5 linked regions of the Homo sapiens genome follow. The protein of the gene in region 1 interacts with the protein of each later gene in a pairwise test. Each region holds a gene or a part of one and is shown in the gene's direction. Other genes may lie near its edges. The genes, in order: RASA1, PTPRJ, BMPR1A, DCC and MLH3.

What was found.
Region 2: the proteins of RASA1 (region 1) and PTPRJ interact in a two-hybrid assay, tested with the Homo sapiens proteins (one large-scale study listed by BioGRID and IntAct).
Region 3: the proteins of RASA1 (region 1) and BMPR1A interact in a two-hybrid assay, tested with the Homo sapiens proteins (one large-scale study listed by BioGRID and IntAct).
Region 4: the proteins of RASA1 (region 1) and DCC interact in a two-hybrid assay, tested with the Homo sapiens proteins (one large-scale study listed by BioGRID and IntAct).
Region 5: the proteins of RASA1 (region 1) and MLH3 interact in a two-hybrid assay, tested with the Homo sapiens proteins (one large-scale study listed by BioGRID and IntAct).

The regions. Positions count from the first base shown.
Region 1 is NC_000005.10:87,379,364-87,382,883, forward strand, and holds part of RASA1 (ras GTPase-activating protein 1), read left to right. Parts: intron 1-371; coding exon 372-487; intron 488-1,145; coding exon 1,146-1,232; intron 1,233-3,520. UniProt on the Homo sapiens protein: Inhibitory regulator of the Ras-cyclic AMP pathway. Stimulates the GTPase of normal but not oncogenic Ras p21; this stimulation may be further increased in the presence of NCK1.
Region 2 is NC_000011.10:48,130,558-48,134,077, forward strand, and holds part of PTPRJ (receptor-type tyrosine-protein phosphatase eta isoform 1 precursor), read left to right. Parts: coding exon 1-159; intron 160-953; coding exon of another isoform or gene 954-958; exon of another isoform or gene 959-2,163; intron 2,164-3,520. UniProt on the Homo sapiens protein: Tyrosine phosphatase which dephosphorylates or contributes to the dephosphorylation of CTNND1, FLT3, PDGFRB, MET, KDR, LYN, SRC, MAPK1, MAPK3, EGFR, TJP1, OCLN, PIK3R1 and PIK3R2. Plays a role in cell adhesion, migration, proliferation and differentiation.
Region 3 is NC_000010.11:86,889,113-86,892,632, forward strand, and holds part of BMPR1A (bone morphogenetic protein receptor type-1A isoform 3 precursor), read left to right. Parts: intron 1-949; coding exon 950-1,112; intron 1,113-3,014; coding exon 3,015-3,117; intron 3,118-3,520. UniProt on the Homo sapiens protein: On ligand binding, forms a receptor complex consisting of two type II and two type I transmembrane serine/threonine kinases.
Region 4 is NC_000018.10:52,343,179-52,346,698, forward strand, and holds part of DCC (netrin receptor DCC), read left to right. Parts: intron 1-3,520. UniProt on the Homo sapiens protein: Receptor for netrin required for axon guidance. Mediates axon attraction of neuronal growth cones in the developing nervous system upon ligand binding. Its association with UNC5 proteins may trigger signaling for axon repulsion.
Region 5 is NC_000014.9:75,027,459-75,030,978, reverse strand, and holds part of MLH3 (DNA mismatch repair protein Mlh3), read left to right. Parts: intron 1-263; coding exon of another isoform or gene 264-276; coding exon 277-436; exon of another isoform or gene 437-437; intron 438-3,520. UniProt on the Homo sapiens protein: Probably involved in the repair of mismatches in DNA.

The DNA.
Region 1 (3,520 bases):
AAGGGTTACAGGAAAAGTTCTGAGAAAGGTTTGTGATTCTGCCTAAGGCATTTGATATTTTTATTAGCCATTAAATAAGCCTCATTCAGAAAAGCTTTTAATCAGCTTTTTTTCCCCTCAAATAAATAGAATTGACTAAGCACTGTTTGCTTTTCAGTTGGCTAATTGGGAATAAATGGTAACAGACCTACCAGGAGGAGTTCCATAGAGAAAACTACTTAAAAACTCCCATTATACAAAGAAAAAAGATCAATACACACAGAGATACCGAAAAATAGACAACCTCGAAAACTATAACTACTTGTTTTCCTCTATTCATTTGCATTTGTCATTGCCAACATGCATTTATATTGATTTATTCCTTCTTTTAGTTAAGTCCATCAAAGTTAGAAAAAAATGAAGATGTGAACACTAATTTAACACACCTATTGAACATACTTTCAGAGCTTGTGGAGAAAATATTCATGGCTTCAGAAATACTTCCACCGTAAGTGGTGAAATTTTCATTTGACAAGAAATTGTGTATCTATGTCTTCAGAAATTTCTATTTCTAAAACGTGAAAGCTTTTCTGTTGTCCTAATATTATTATACTCTGAAAAAGTCATGGTTAATCTTTATGAGATGAATTGTATTTAAAGAAAATAGCTGTCTTAATAAAACCACCCATTATTTTCGTACAAGCCAATATGTCTGGTTTGTACTGTAGTAGCTTGGGGAGTGAATAGAGGTTTATAGTTTCAGATTTGAGATTGTAAAAGATATCTTGTCTATCCATTTAGTCTATACTTGATAGACTAATCACTCTGTTAATATGCTTGTCGGCCTCCAGTATTAGTGAACTCACTTGTTCAGGTAGAAGTTAACTTAAGTCTAAATCTTGCTCCCCAGAATTTGCAGCTGGTTGGTTCTCTATATCTGAAAGTAAATGTCAGGAAGTTGACTGAATAAATTGATGATAAACTTAGTGGATAAAGTTTTCCTTACCCCTTGCTAAATGCCTCATTACCTGTGGCAAAATACTTTTTTGGGTAAAAGGCCAGTTTTATTGAACTGTGGTATATTTGGGTAAATTAAGCTTTTGGCTGCTAGGAGATCAGTGTTTTCACTTGCTTTCTGTGTTGAGATGATTGTGTTATTTTGGCAGGACATTGAGATATATTTATGGGTGTTTACAGAAATCTGTTCAGCATAAGTGGCCTACAAATACCACCATGAGAACAAGAGTTGTTAGGTAAGGCTCATCAATTGATTTGTTAAATCACATACTAATAGGTGGATAATTGTGAAAAATTGAGGAATAACAATATACAATTCAATGCTTTTTTCTTTGGCTTTTATGTCAAAGCCCTGTTGCATATTTTCTAAGTCCAGATGGCTCCTAAACTGAAAGTTACTGTGAGATTTAGCTGCCGTTTGCATTTTCTAAAAACATGAACATTCATTTATAGTCAAGTATTGGGGATTTTTAAACCCTTACAAGATGAGGCTAAAAGTTATATAACAAAATCTGTAGCTAACTTCATATAGTATTCTTCATACATACACACACATTGATTGGCAGTGAGAGAGAAGGGCAGTAATTGACCGATTTAGATATTAATTGGTTTGTTACAATCTGTGACTCTGAGCTAATCAGAACCAGAACATGTAGTTCTGAAGCTGTGTTTCAGTCTGCTCATTGTACCATAATTAGGAAGAACTGCTTTGGCAAATCATGGAATTTGGGAGCTTATATAAAGGGACTTCATTATCATTATTCTATAGGAAGAACTGCTTTGGCAAATCATGGAATTTGGGAGCTTACGTAAGGTTACTTCATTATCATTATTCTAACTTATTTTTCCAATGAAGAAGCAGATCTGTCTGGAGAGGTTAAGTTGAACTAAGGTTTTATAGAAAGCTGGTGGCTAAGGCAGAACTAAAGGTAACTTTCTAAGACCCAATCTGATATCCTTGAGTCTTATTGTAGGCTTTTGCTTTTGTTAAGCATACTCCAACTAATACCCCAACTAATTCCAGGCAAATGGAAGTTTAATGCGAAAGCGTCATGGAATACAGCAGTTTTCTAATAATATAATTTGTTATTTAGAATATACACTGTCATGTCATGCTATATGTAAAATAATTAGGCAACCATTAACACCATTATTACACAGTTTGTTTTGAAAATGTGTTAATCCTGCCTCCAACCTAAATTTTGTCAAGGGGCTTCTATTTCTTTTTTTGGGGGGCAGGTAATATTTCTCTTGGTTATGATATGACATAATATTTAAGAACTACAGATTCTGTTTTTCTTGGCATTAGTGGTGATTGGGAGGAATAGAAAAGAATTACAAGCATAATATTCCAGCACAGTTACGTGTGAGATGTAAATTAAAACTGTTCTATAAATTTGTAAGTTTCAAACAAGTATAACTGTTAAGCAAACACAGCAGGAAATTGTAAACTGTTTCGTGCAAGAGGGTGTTTTAGGGCATTTTTGCCAAGGTTAGGTTTCAGGCTCATAGACCTACTATGTATAATTATCACAATATTTTCAAGTAAAGTTTACAAGATTCTTTAAATTTGGGAAGTCCAAAATTAAAGACTTAATTGTTATTTTTTTGAGACAGGGTCTTGCTCTGTTGCCCATGCTGGAGTGCAGTGGTGTGATTTCGGCTTACTGCAACCCCCGCCTCCCAGGTTCAAGTGAGATTCTTGTGCTTCATCCACCCAAGTAGCTGGATTACAGGCATGCACCACCATACCTGGCTATTTTTGTATTTTTAGTAGAGATGGGGTTAGACCATGTTGGCCAGGCTGGTCTTGAACTCCTGGCCTCAGGTGGTACACCCACCTCGGCCTCCCAAAGTGTTGGATTACAGGCATGAGCCACCATGCCCAGCCAATATATTAGAATTTCTATAAATGCTGTTTGAGAAGTAACATCTTTACTTTCTAAGAGTCCAAAAATTAGCAAACAGGTACATGTTCAAAGGTAAATGCTAAGAAATTGGGTAATCCACTCTAACAGAGAACAGAGATTGTATCTATTAATCTATAGAAGGAATTGCGTAACTCATTATTTTGGGAATAATGCTTGTCTTTACATGGATTATGTCTATCAATCTGTAGAAGGAATTGCATAATTCATTATTTTAGGAATAATGCTTGTCTTTACATGGGGCAAGTAAGAGGTTAATTATTAGTGTGGATTCTTCTTAAAAGGAAATTAGAAATTATCTACATGACAACATATCCTCCCTACCAGTGACTAAAGGAGGCAGAATAGGAGTATCTATGCAAGCTTTTAACACTGACATTGTCCCAAAGTAAAATTAGCAGATAAAATCATATATGACAGCTGTTAGTATAATTTTTGCTTTTGCTATTGTTTTATAATTTGACAACTTTTTAAAACTTTAGAATTCCTAATGTCTTGTCTTAAAAGTTTTTCAGGCTGGGCATGGTGGCTCAAGCCTGTAATCTCAACATGTTTAGACCAAGACAGGAGGATTGCTTGAGGCCAGGAATTTGAAA
Region 2 (3,520 bases), on another chromosome or scaffold:
TCACACAGGAGGGAGCTGGCAATTCTCGGGTAGAAATAACCACCAACCAAAGTATTATCATTGGTGGCTTGTTCCCTGGAACCAAGTATTGCTTTGAAATAGTTCCAAAAGGACCAAATGGGACTGAAGGGGCATCTCGGACAGTTTGCAATAGAACTGGTAAGCAAATAGGCTTTTCTGTTAAACCATCATGTTTCTTAAAGGAAATCAGTATAATTAATAAACATAATGTTTCCAAATATTGTTTTTCTTTTAATTATCTAAGAAAAAACTTTAAAAATTTTCATAACACTAATGCTTATTTATTATATGAAATACAGACAAGTAAGTAGAAAAAACTTACATGGAAACCATCAAGCAGAGATAATCACTTTTGATGTATGACATTTTACAATTTTTAAACATATACATATAGATACACAAATATATGTGTGAGTATACATATATTTAATACATATATATTTAATATTTAATACACACACACACACACACACATATATATATATATATATATTTTTTTTTTTTTTTTTTTTTTTTTTTGAGACAGTCTTACCCTGTCACCCAGGCTGGAGTGCAGTGGCATGATCTTGGCTCACTGCAACCTCCATCTCCTGGGTTCAAGTGAAGCGATTCTTGTGCCTCAGCCTCCTGAGTAATTGGAATTACAGGTGTGCACCACCATGCCTGGCTAATTTTTATAGTTTTAGTAGAGACAGGGTTTCGCCATATTGGCCAGGCTGGTCTTGATCTCCTGATCTCAAATGATCTGCCCACCTCAGCCTCCCAAAGTGCTTGGATTACAGGTGTGCGCCACTGCACCCAGCCCACAAATATATATTTATTTCTTTCACAAACATTGAGGCCATCTGTACATGTGGTTTTGTAATCTGCCTTTTCCCCAACTTGCCAATTAATTATGAATATTCTTTCCTCTTAATAAAATATTTCTACAGGATGATTTGAACACCTGCCTGGAATTCCATCATCTGAAACAGAGTTGGCAGATAAGAATGGCCCCTATGCCAAATTTGGCTCATTGTCTGTTTTTGTAAATAAAGTTTTATTGGATCACAGCCATGTTCATTTGCTTATGTACTGTCTATGGCTACTTTGGTGCTAGAATTGAGTAGTGGCAGCAGAGAACGTGTGGCTTGTGAAGCCTGAGATATTTATTTTCTGGCCATTACAGAGAATGTTTGCTGACCTCTGGGCTAGATCAGTGGTTTTCAAATTGTGGTCCAGGGCTCTCTAGGGATCCCTAGGTTCTTTCAAGGGGTCTCCAAGGTAGTATTATCATAACAATACTAAAATGTTATTTGGCTTTTTCATTCTCATTCTCTTTTGGAGTTTTCCAACTTTGATCCGATATGGGATGACATTGTCTCTCAGGTCTAATGGAATATATGCTGTGGATTCTTACATTTTAAAAATTTCTTCATTTTAAATCCCTGATATAGTAAATATTAATAAATATAACCTATGTAAATACAAATTCTCTGAGAGCCTTAATAACTTTTAAGATGGTAAAGAAGTCCTGAGAGCAAAAAGTTTAAGAACCTCTGGTCAAGATGTGTTAGAAATTAACTACTGTGCTGTGTTGGGCAGGTGGACTGTTCACAGTCTTTCCTAAACAACACTGTGATGAGATACTTTGTTAGTTCTAGAAGGCTAATTGAAATTGATAAAATCATTTTATAGTCAGCTACGGTGGCCTGCACCCATCGTCCCAGCTACTTGAGAGGCTGCGGCAGGAGGATTGCTTGGCCCAACAGTTGCAGACTAGCACCAGCCTGGGAGACCCTGTCTCAAAAAAAAATTTTTTTTTATAGAAACAGTTTAAATTATTAAATTATTTCTAGGCCTACAGGAGAAACTTCTGGGAAATCCTAGAGAGTAATGTTCATTATTGTTGTTTTAAAATTTTGAAATAATTGTTTTTTGGAAAGGTTGAAAAACATACAGTCTTCCTTGATCTAAGATTCAAGATAGTTGAAATCTTTTATACAGAGGGTAGAATAAAGATATACCTAATGTAAATGATGAGTTAATGGGTGCAGCACACCAACATGGCACATGTATACATATGTAACAAACCTGCACGTTGTGCACATGTACCCTAGAACTTAAAGTATAATAAAAACATATATATATATATAAAAGAAATGGGACAGATTCCTTGAAACACACATGAAATGAGTTACGCTTTTGAGATTCTCCTTGAAGAAGCTTCTTCAACTGTGCTGGTTGGGTTAAGCACCGATAGTCACTCAGAGGATCTGCTTCTGAAATAAGGGATCTACTAAAATGCATCCCTCAGATGAAATGCAGTATTCCCTTTGCAAATCTGCATTTCAGACTGTTGACATGACGTCTTAACGTCAACATGTTTCTTCTGTCTTTTAAGGATGTGGATAATGGTAAGAGGATCACCACTGAGGGAGATGCATGATGTTGTGCTACTTGCTATTGCCCAGAACTTACTGTAACAATAATATAATATGCTGGGGGTCTGCGAAGTGCTGAGTGCTCTCATACTGCATTTTACATTTTTAACACAACTTCATGGAGCAGGTATTATTATCATTTCTGTCTTACAGAGTAAGAAATGGGGGCTCTGCAAACTTAAGTAACTGGCCCAGAGTGACAAGGTGGCAAACTGACCTGTGTCTGCTGTCTAAGACCAAGTGCTTAACCACCATGTAGATTGACACTTTGATGTGGTACAGCAGTAAAGTTTAGTATTAGTGAGGAGAGGGCATCTCTTTTACTATAGTTTATTGTGAATATTCTTTCCTCTTAATATCAGTATTTCTACAGGGTAATTTTAACACCTGCCTGGAATTGCATTGTCTCAAAGGACCCGTTTCATTCAATGGTCCCATTGAATGAAAGTCAAGAAGGCTTGCTATAAGATCTAAACTCTTAGGGGGGTTACCTTTCTATTATCAAATAACCTTTATTGTTATTGGAAAAAGTCAGCTTAACAGCATTAAAAGCAATTTCAAAAAAAGGAAACGAATACCATATGATCCAGTAATTCCAGTCCTATGTATATCTCCAAAAGAATTGAAAACAGGCCCCTGGACAGTTATTTGTACATCAGTGTTCATAGTAGTAGCATTGTTCACAGTAGCCAAAGGTGGACCCAAGATCCCATCAACAAATGAATGGATAGATAAAATGTGGTTCATCCATACAACAAAATACTATTCAGCCATAAGAAAGAAAGAAATTCTGATTTATGGTACAACATGGATGGATCTTGAGGACATTATGCTAAGTGAAGCCAGACACAGAAGGACAAATACTGGATGATTCCACTTACATGAGTACCTAGATTAGGCAACTTAATATTCTACAGAAATTAGAATAGAGGTTACCAGGGGCTGTTCAGAGGAGGGAGTGGGCATTATTGTTTAATGGCTACAGTTTATGCTGGGGATAATGACAGTGTTTTGGGTACAGGTAGTGGTGATAGTTACACAACATTGTGAATATTGATGATACCGAATTGTACACT
Region 3 (3,520 bases), on another chromosome or scaffold:
GGAAGTAATTACTAGAACAGTTTTTTTAGTTCCGTTCTGCTTCCAGCCTGAAAGATTTAGTACCAAATATGACAGTATCTGTCACTGCAGGCTGCTAGACTCTAGTGTAAGAACATAGTTCTATTTCTGTGAGCTAACTGCTGCCCTTCTATAACCTTCAGTTTCTGCCAGCATCGTCTGCATTCAAACCAATGACCTCGAGGTGAAAATCTCCAGATAACATGATTGGTCCCCATGCTCTCATGATTTCCTTACTTAAGCAATTAAAGGCCAAAGCAAGATGCTTAGTAACTCCTTTTCCACATAGAGGCACAAATAAAGGAAAGCTGGTCACAAGTTTTGAACCAAAGAGTTAAAAGAAGAATCATAACTTGTCTCTATTTAATGATTGGAAACTCTCACAGACTTCTGTGAAGTCTCTCCCCCTTTTGTACCTTTCTTACAAGTGATGACTATATACTTTTACCTGGCAGGGGAGAGACCACGGTCACGAAGGTGGTTTTCCCAGGGCGAGGCTTATTCATTGCACTCCAGATGTGCTGACCCCTGCGATTTCCCCAAATGTGGGAAACTCAACTGCATAATTGTGGTGGTGGGGGACTGCGTTCATGCTTTTCCCTGGTTAAATTAAAAAATTTTTAAGTTATTTTAAAAATATAAAAAACAAGATTTGACTGTATTCTGCCTTGCGCCACTCTTGTTTGTCTTTCACTAGTGCAAAAATTGTGATATAGCTGTCTTCATGTACCCCGCAATACCTGGTGCAGTAATTCTGTGCATAATAATGTATGTCTGTTTGTTGTATGAATGAAATTTATATTTCTAAAGAAACATGCTAGCTACAATTATTGTGATAAGAAAGCTTAACAACTTTTTCTCATTGAAAATTGTCACGAAACAATGAGCTTTTCAGAAATGATTTACTTACAAATTCCATATTTGAATGCAGGACAGAATCTGGATAGTATGCTTCATGGCACTGGGATGAAATCAGACTCCGACCAGAAAAAGTCAGAAAATGGAGTAACCTTAGCACCAGAGGATACCTTGCCTTTTTTAAAGTGCTATTGCTCAGGGCACTGTCCAGATGATGCTATTAATAACACATGCATGTAAGTATTTTATGCAGCCCTTCTTAAGAGTTAGGAGAATAGAGTTGCATTTAGTGCTATTTTAAGAATTATTAAACTTGTCTGCGGTTTTTTTTTCATTCATATATAGTATCTTTCCAGAAAGCCAAAAAGCCTTTTGTTTTGTATATTAGAACATTATTCCATTAAATGATTGATAGGTGAGTTACTATATTAGAATTATGTTATAATGCAGCTTTTAAAATAAGATCAAAGGGATCTAGTATTTAACATCTGAGTTTTTAATGATCTTTTAATCTTAAATTTATTGATGCTCATTTTAGAAAACTTAGAGGTTACCAAAAAAGAAATCAGAAAACTCACTGACAACCTCCTACTTCTTTTTAATTTAAAAAAAAATTTTTTTTTTAACTATAGACAGGATCTTGCTATGTTGCCCAGGCTGGTCTCAAACTCCTGGGCTCAAGCAGTCCTTCCACCTCAGCCTCCCAAAGTGCTGGGATTACTAGGGTGAGCTGCCACACCTGGCCTCCTACTTCTTAATTAGTTGAAATATTTTGCAGATATATATAAATCATATTGTGTTAATTAATTTTATGCTTTTTTCTTACCTGTGAATTTACCAATCCAAATCTGATTTATAAAATGATTTTAATTTTTCTAGTGTATTTCGTGTTAGCTGCACAACATGTTTATATATGATCATGTAATTCTAGTCCATATTTGTTGGAAACATTGACATATTGACTTAATAAGACCAAAAAAAATTGCCTGAACAACTCAACCTCATCAGTCAATTAATTGTCTCCTTGTTATAGAGGCAATAATGAATGTCATGTTTTATACTTTTAATAATTGTATGTTCCCTGAATGGACCAGATAGAAAGCATGAAACTTTACACGTAAACTCTTGAACCTGCATGACGGTCATCGTGTCTTAGGTTTGCTGCTTGTCCCCTGGTGGTGGTGGGCTCTGCGTGGCTGACTGTGACTAGTTGTTCATTTTTACCTTGGTGAGAGTTTGCCAGCAGGGAACTGCTCTCTGCTATGTCACCAAATAATGTTTTGCTAAACTTCTTGTCTGTAGTACCTGCCTGATGTAATGGGCTGTCTGTTAGTAGCTTAGTAACCCAGAGTAAAACTGAATCATCCATTTTAACAGAATTCTGCCCCACACTTAACATTTTCTCCTAACAGAAAACCAAGAATTCTGCAAAATTCTTCTAAGTAGAAGCAGCACAATTCCTGATATTAACAATAAATAGGAGTACAGAAAAAGCTTTTAGAAATTTCTCCCATACCTGTTAAAGTCTATATGAATATATTAAGGGGAAACTCCAGGATGCTAACACTAAAATAAGAATTTCATTATATATGTATGTAAATTTATTGAAAATTTATTCAAAAGTCCTCTCCCTGTTTTCCCATCATATTCAGTAAAAGGTGCCTTTTAGTCCCCTTTTTTTTGGTCATTAAGCCTATTTGTATGTTTCAGAGAAAAGTTTGTTTTTATCTATTATCATATACAATATGGAAGTACTGAAAAAATGGGTAAAAAGAGACAAAGTTATTTTAAAGTATGTTTTCAAAACATGACATAAAATTTTATAAATCAGCTTTCTGTGATCACATGACTGATTAGCAAAGAGAAGTCACATAACTCCTATGTGGAGGACTTGTTTAATTGAAATCCTTTTCTTCTTGACAAAGGGTTGTCACTGGCCTTTTAGATCTTGGCTCAGACATAACTTTCATTTGTCTTAAAACCTCTGGCGTTGCCAATAAATCACGTGTGAATGCAATTCTAAGTCACAAAACAAAGTATTAAAGGCCATCTGTACCTGTTCACATTCAGACTCAAATTTCGTTAGTACTTTCTATGTGAATTTATGTTTTGTTTTGTTTTGTTTTTTTCTGTTTTAGAACTAATGGACATTGCTTTGCCATCATAGAAGAAGATGACCAGGGAGAAACCACATTAGCTTCAGGGTGTATGAAATATGAAGGATCTGATTTTCAGTGCAAAGTAAGATATAATTTGGGACCCATGAGACAAAGAAGGGAGGGGCCATATGAAAGCATCGATTTCCCCCAGGAGAAACATGCCTGGTGTACACATCGCTGTATGTTCACATCAGTAAATATATTGGAGGAATACCTACTGTCTAGATTCTGTCCTGTATTCATATGTAGAATTTATAACTAAATCATTTCTGAAAAGCTAATTGTTTGATTACAATTTCCTTTTTTATTTCCATAGACAGCACCTGGCTCTGTTGCCCAGGCTGGAGTGCAGTGCTGCGATCTCCGCTCACTGCAACCTCAAGCCAGCCTCCTGCCTCAGCCTTCTGAATAGCTGAGACTACAGGTGCATGCCACTATACCTGGCTAATTTTTGTATTTTTTGTAGAGACAAGGTTTTACCATGT
Region 4 (3,520 bases), on another chromosome or scaffold:
TGCTCATTAATCTGAGTATCACTTCTTTCTCTTAGTAATAATTTCCCCTGTTTAGGAACATGGCAGGAAACTTACAACGAGAAAGCATAGTTCACTCTATAAAAGGACCAGTAGGAGGTGCCCTTAATAAGGCCAAGTGTCTAGTTTACTGGCAGAGAAATTCCCATTCAGCCGGGTGTTTTAAAGACTTTGTTGATTGGTAACAAAGGATTATGGAGACTAGCACAATAGCACTGGGCCCTTTCCCACTTTCTAGGTAAAGTCTGAAGCTGCTGTAGATTTGTATGAAACTGTGATGATTTAACAAAGGACAGCCCTGAAAAGTGTCAGTAGAGAGTGAGGACTTGATGTTGGGGGAGGAGGATGGTGACTTTTTAGTTGGCTTCTGTAAGATGTCATCTTCTTATATATTTGACATGAGCCACAGGCACAGGAACCTTATAGAGTCTCAGGGGATCTCAGATAAGATAACAATTTTGGATGTTGGATGTTAATGAGTGAAAAATGAGGCATACATATTAATTAATTCTTCATACATGTTTGGGTTCCATTGCATTGAAAAAAATCTGTGAGTGTTTAATGTAGTCTGGATATGCTGAAATGAGGCTGGTCGCCCTCCCTAGGCGACCTCTTCTCATTCCCCCAACCAAAGCAGATCAGATGCCCCCATGTGGGTTTGCTTTTGAGTGGCGGGAGTATGGCAGAGCCTGAGGGCTCGGGGTAGGCTGGCAGTCCACTCCTCTGTGAGTGCCGCAGTATAAATCACCAGTACCTGTCAGTGTCCATTTCCCACACAGCAGCAGCTGCCCTCTGAGTTATAAAGCATGGGAAACGGCCACCACATGTGTTATATGTGAATATATTAGGCTTAGTGCCTTTGCTTTAATGCTCTTAAAAGCCAGGCTGGCTTGAGATGCTGATAGGCATTTTTTTCTGGGGAGAGATTTATAACTTCTCAGTGTGTATGACTTAAATTTATTCTCTGGCAAGTTAACCTCTTAGCAAACTTCCTTATTGTTTTCATTGAAGAGGAAGAGCCTTAATCCTACCTAAATTCCTGAATGAAGCTCTGCTGAAAGTTTCTGCTAGAGTACAGGATATTTGCAGGCTGTAGTATGGTTTCCTAAACCAATGGGAAGCTTGACAAGATATATGGGGAGGTGATTTTTTGGTGGGGAGGCGGGGATATTTTTACTTGTTTTTAGAGAGGGAAGTTGTGATACTGCATCTTCTAAAGGAATTCTAGCAACTCAGTTATCTCAAAAGCATCTTTAATGAGAGGAAATGTTTCTCGCTTCCAGTTTCATACATCTAACAGTCTGGGATTCTTCAAATGCATATAATATGCTCCTGGAATGTTTGCAGCTGCACGCAGTAGGGTCATCTAGCAGGATCACTGTCATTTGGAAATGAGCCCTGATTTAAATTTTGACTTGCAGACAAAACACTTATCTTTACCTGGTGCGGCATGTTTAAAAGCAGTGCTGAAGTTTCTGAACAGAATATTTCTTTCCATGGGAGACTGTGCCCTAAGATTACATTTTAAAGTAAGTGTTCTTACCATTTCTTTGGAGAATTTGCCATCCCAAACTTTGCATGTGAAACTTCTTCTTCATGATTCTACCAGTAAAGATAACTATTTAAAGAGAATGCAGTTGTTTCCGGGTATTTCTTTAAAATTAAAATTCAATGTCCACATCCACACACAAACAAGGAGGATTTCCACCCCCTCATACCTTCTCCTTCAAATAGCTGACTTTGGTGTGAATTATGATAGCTCTAATTACATAAGGGCACTTGCAATTTCCCTAGAGAATGAGTTCTTGCCTGATTACAGATCTTCCTACTTTCCATAGGAAGTTTCTGGCCCACACTACTATCAGAAACTTGCACCAAATTGGGAACACATTGCTCTGTTTTGGTATTTGCTACCCAGCTATACATTTTTGAAGGATTAATCTACCTCAGATGATAATCTCTTAGATGAACTATATACATAAATTTCAAGAAATCTTAGCTTTGCCTGAGGCCAAAGAATAATGTCACAAACCTGCTGAAATTACTTGATTAATTGATTGATTAACTAAGGATAAAAAGTCACTTGGTTCTGGAAAAGTACTGTACTCCCTAAAGAGTTCTAAAGAGGAATAGTAAATACTATGCACATTTACAATTCATAAAATGTAAACGTCAAGTCTTCTTCCCCCTCTTTTTCCATTCCTTCCTTATAATGCTCTGGAGGAAAATTTAAGAGTTTCATGAGTTGTCACAACAGTTATATCTTAAGGAATCATAGCTTGGAATCTCACTAACTCATGATTAATAGACACTCAATTAAATAGCAACACAATGTCCGGTGAATTTTTCGGCAGCCTGCTGTGGGCTGCTTGCTTGTTTTCAGCTCGTTTCTAAGGAATCAAAACTCTCATCTCTAAGAGGTGTGGCATCAATACTGCCTCCCTTGACGCAGCCCAAGAAAGCCTTTCTCACTCTGAAACCAAGGCTGTGACCCACAGGCACTGTGTTTAATATGCTGTGTTCCACTTTGCAAGGTCAGGGGGATTTGCCTTAAAAATAAATTTTTAAATGTTCATGCATGCTGCTTTTGGTGGAGAGTTAAACTGTACTCTAAAAGCAGCTAAATAGTGTTGTTATCTTAAGACATTCTAACTTGTGGCCTCTCAGCCAATATTATTGAAGTTCTAGAGCTCACAATCTTTAAGAGAGACAGGAGTGAGCTCTATAAGATAATAGGTTATGCCAACCTAGTTAAGCTACTTTTTTCCCCAAAATGGTGTTACCAGGTTGGAATAATAGAACGTTAACCTTTTTCAAAGTTACTACTTTTCAGAGGAAAAAACATTTCTTAATAATATCATAATATCAGTAGCATGGGACTGACCCAATGTATTTAAGATATTGTTCTTCAAAACAAGATATCAAGGAAAGCCAGTGTTAAACTTGTCAAGAAGAAAGGATGAACAATCCAGATTATTTTCCCTGCAGGCCAATAAAAAATGTGCAAGATAGAATTACATGTTGCATATGCCAAATAGGTAATAGCAAAAAATAAAATGTAAAGTATTATGCACCTTTATCATTGCAGGACTCAGGTAAATGAAACACAATTTAGTAACACACTTTTTCTTTCTCTCACTCTAGAATGTTAATTCCTTATCTTATATTTCTCTGGTTTAACTCCAAACTAAGATGGAGAAATACAGGTTGGCTGACTGATGATCAAAATTATTATAGTGCTCCAAAGTTATTTGACAAATTTTAGCCTGAGGTTTAACAACTAAATCCCTTTAATTCAACTATTAAGTGAAAGTGTTTTCTTTGGTAGTTTAGAAATACCTGAGCTTTGTCCCAATGGTGTGGTTTAGAAATACATAATAATGCATAAGATTGAATATGCCTTCTTTTTCAATATTGATGGGAATTTGCCAATGGTAATACCAGTGCATATTGCTCTTTTATTAATAGTTCCAAACAACCATATTATTCACAGCTTTCATTT
Region 5 (3,520 bases), on another chromosome or scaffold:
CAGTTCCTCAATGAAGAAAACACACTTAGAAACAAGACTTAGACACAGATTGATTCCCAATGGAAAAGAGAAAAACAATAAAGGTTACTGTAATTCAAAAAGGAAATTTGATAATAAAAAATCCCAAACACCCACACATAAGTGTGAGAAAAACAATACGGTTGTTAAGCCCTGTGGCAGCTTTTGAAAAACTATTAAGTAGTATTTGGAACCAGTAGTGAAGTGCAAATGAAGTAGCACTCTTTTTTTTTTTAACATTTGAGGTTATCTCTTTAGGTGTTACCACAAAAATCTGGAAGATCTGGGCCTTGAATTTGTATTTCCAGACACTAGTGATTCTCTGGTCCTTGTGGGAAAAGTACCACTATGTTTTGTGGAAAGAGAAGCCAATGAACTTCGGAGAGGAAGATCTACTGTGACCAAGAGTATTGTGGAGGTAAGACACAGCTGCAGATGTTAAGGAAATTGCTGAGTGATGGTAACCTCATATTTTGTCTGTAGATTCTCTGAATTCATCTTTTCTTCAACAAGTATTCATGGTATTTACCTGCGGTGTGCCAGGAGCTAGAAATTCAGAGATGAGTTAGCTCAAAATAAGGAAGAAGGGCATTTAAAGAATTATAGTCAGTGAACTTTGGCTAGTAGAGGTATGTGTTTTGCTTTCTTCCCAGTGATAAAGGTAATGAAAACTAAGAGTCTAGAATGCACCAAGATAGTTTTTCAGAAGTGTTATGGAAACACAGAATGACTTGTGTGCCTGGGGAGGTGAAGTCAATGAAAATGTCACAGAAAAGCTGTTTTCTTAAGAAAAGTTTTTACTTTTGAGAGACCAGGTCTCACTCTGTTGCCCAAGCTGGAGTGCAGTGGTGCAATCATAGCTCACTGTAGCCTTGATCTCCTGGGCACAAGCAATCTTCCTGCCTCAGCCTCCCAAGTAACTCGGACTACAGACACGCACCACCATGCCTGGCTAATTTTTTCCTTTTTTTTTTTTGTAGAGATGGGGGCCTCACTATGTTGCCCAGGCTGGTCCTGAACTTCTGGCCTCAAGCAATCCCCTTGCATTGGCTTCCCAAACCCCCGGCACTACAGGCATGAGCCACTGCACACAGCCAGAAAAGTCTTACAGAATAGTGGGAAACTAGGCTGGGCAAGGTGGCTCACACCTGTAATGCCAGCACTTTGGGAGGCCGTGGTGGGTGGTTCACCTGAGGTCGGGAGTTCGAGACCAGCCTGACAAGCATGGAAAAACCCCATCTCTACTAAAAATAGAAAATTAGCCGGGCGTGGTGGTGCATGCCTATAATCCCAGCTACTCAGGAGGCTGAGGCAGGAGAATGGCTTGAACCTGGGAGGCGGAGGTTGCATTGAGCCAAGATTGCACCATTGTACTCCAGCCTGGGCAACAAGAGTGAAACTCTGTCTCAAAAAAAAAAAGAAAAAAAGAATAGTGGGAAAGTGCTGAGTACAGAAGAGGGGAGAAGGGCATTCTAGACAGAGGAATACATATCAGAGACTTGAGATACATCCTATGTTTAGGGAACTATCAATAGATATGGCTCAAATTAAGATCTACAGTTGATCCTTGGATAACTTGGGTCTGAACTGCGCAGGTACACTTAAATGCAGATTTTCTTTCACCTCTGCCATTCCTGAGACAGCAAGACCAACCTTTCCTCTTCTTCCTCCTCCTTAGCCTATTCAATGTGAAAATGATGAGGGTGAAGACCTTTATGATGATTCATTTCCACTTAATGAATAATAAATATATTTTCTGTTTCTTATGATTTTCTTAACATTTTCTTTTTCTTTCTTTCTTTCTTTCTTTCTTTTTTTTTTTTTTTTGCGATGCCCAGGCTGGAGTGCAATGGCACAATCTCAGCTCACTGCAACCTCCACCTCCCGGGTTAAAGCGATTCTCCTACCTCAGCCTCCCAAGTAGCTGGGATTACAGGCGCACACCACCATGCCCCGGCTAATTTTTGTATTTTTAGTAGAGATGGGGTCTCACCATGTTGGCCAAGCTGGTATTGAACTCCTGACCTCAAATGATCCACCTGCCTTGGCCTCCCAAAGTGCTGGGATTACAGGCATGAGCCACTACGCCTGGCCAACATTTTCTTTTCTCTAGCTTACTTAATTGTAAGAATACAGTGTGTAATATATACAACACACAAAATATGTGTTAATCAACTGTTTATATTATTGGTAATGCTTCTGATCAACGTTAGGCTATTGGTAGTTAAGATTTGGGGAAATCAGGCCAGGTGCAGTGGCTCACGCCTGTAATCCCAGCATTTTGGGAGGCCAAGGCGGGCGGATCATTTGAGGTCTGGAGTTCAAGACCAGCCTGGCCAACATGATGAGACCCCGTCTCTACTAAAAATTAAAAAATTAGCCAGGCATGATGGTATGTGCCTGTAATCCCAGCTACTTGGGAGGCTGAGGCATGAGAATTGCTTGAACCCGGAAGGTGGAGGTTGCAGTGATCCAAGATCACTGCACTGCACTCCAGCCTGAGTGACACAGTAAGACTCCGTCTCAAAAAAAAAAAAAAAAAAATTGGGGGGAAATCAGAAGTTATACTTGGATCTTTGACTGGATGGGAGTTGGCTAGATGGGTTGTCAAGGTCAAATCATAAAATAATTTAGCATATTCTACTAAGTAGTTTGCATTTTATCCTATAGGCAGCCAGTGAAAACTTTTAAGCAGGAGAGTAAGGTCCATTTTAGATTGCATTCCAAATATGATTACTTTACATATATGTTTTGGTAAAGGTTTGGAAAGCTACTGCTGGGCTGTGGCATTGGAGGTATTAGAGAGAACTATTACTTTTTATTTTGATTACTTATATGTTTCTTTTTTTATAGCAAATATCATTTATTTTGTCTTTATTGTCTTTTTCCTCTCCTTTCCTGTTTTCTATTATAGTTTTCTGTATTTCTCTTTTTTTTTTTGCTCTACTCGTTTAGAAGTTATATATTCCATTTATATCCTTTTAGAGATTAGCCTTAACTTTTAGCATGCATACTTATCAAAGTTTAAAAGTAATTCACTTCTCTATCCTCTTCCTAACTGTACCAAAATCTTACAAACTGTTCATCTCCCATCACCCTCCTCCCATCTTCCATGTTGCTGTCTAGTACTTTAATTCCACCTTGTTTTTAATTCCCTGGTGGTCATTTATTTTATAGTCAATCTTTATTTAGATTAAAAAAAGTGTTCACCAGAGTCTTTGTTCACCATTGCCTCTTGCATCCTACTTATTCTGTGTTCTTTTGGGTTTTTTTTTTTTTTTTTTTTTTTTTTTTTTACTGAAGTAAATCTCTTACAAGATCTTTTATCCACAAACAGATCTTGAGACAAAAAATACAAAAATATAAAAATAAATAGAAGTTATTTTAGTAAGAGTCCGTGGGCCAGGCATGGTGGCTCATGCCTGTAATCCCAGCACTTTGGGAGGCCAAGGCGGGCAGATCACCTGAGGTCAGGAGTTTTGAGACCAGCCTGGCCAACGTG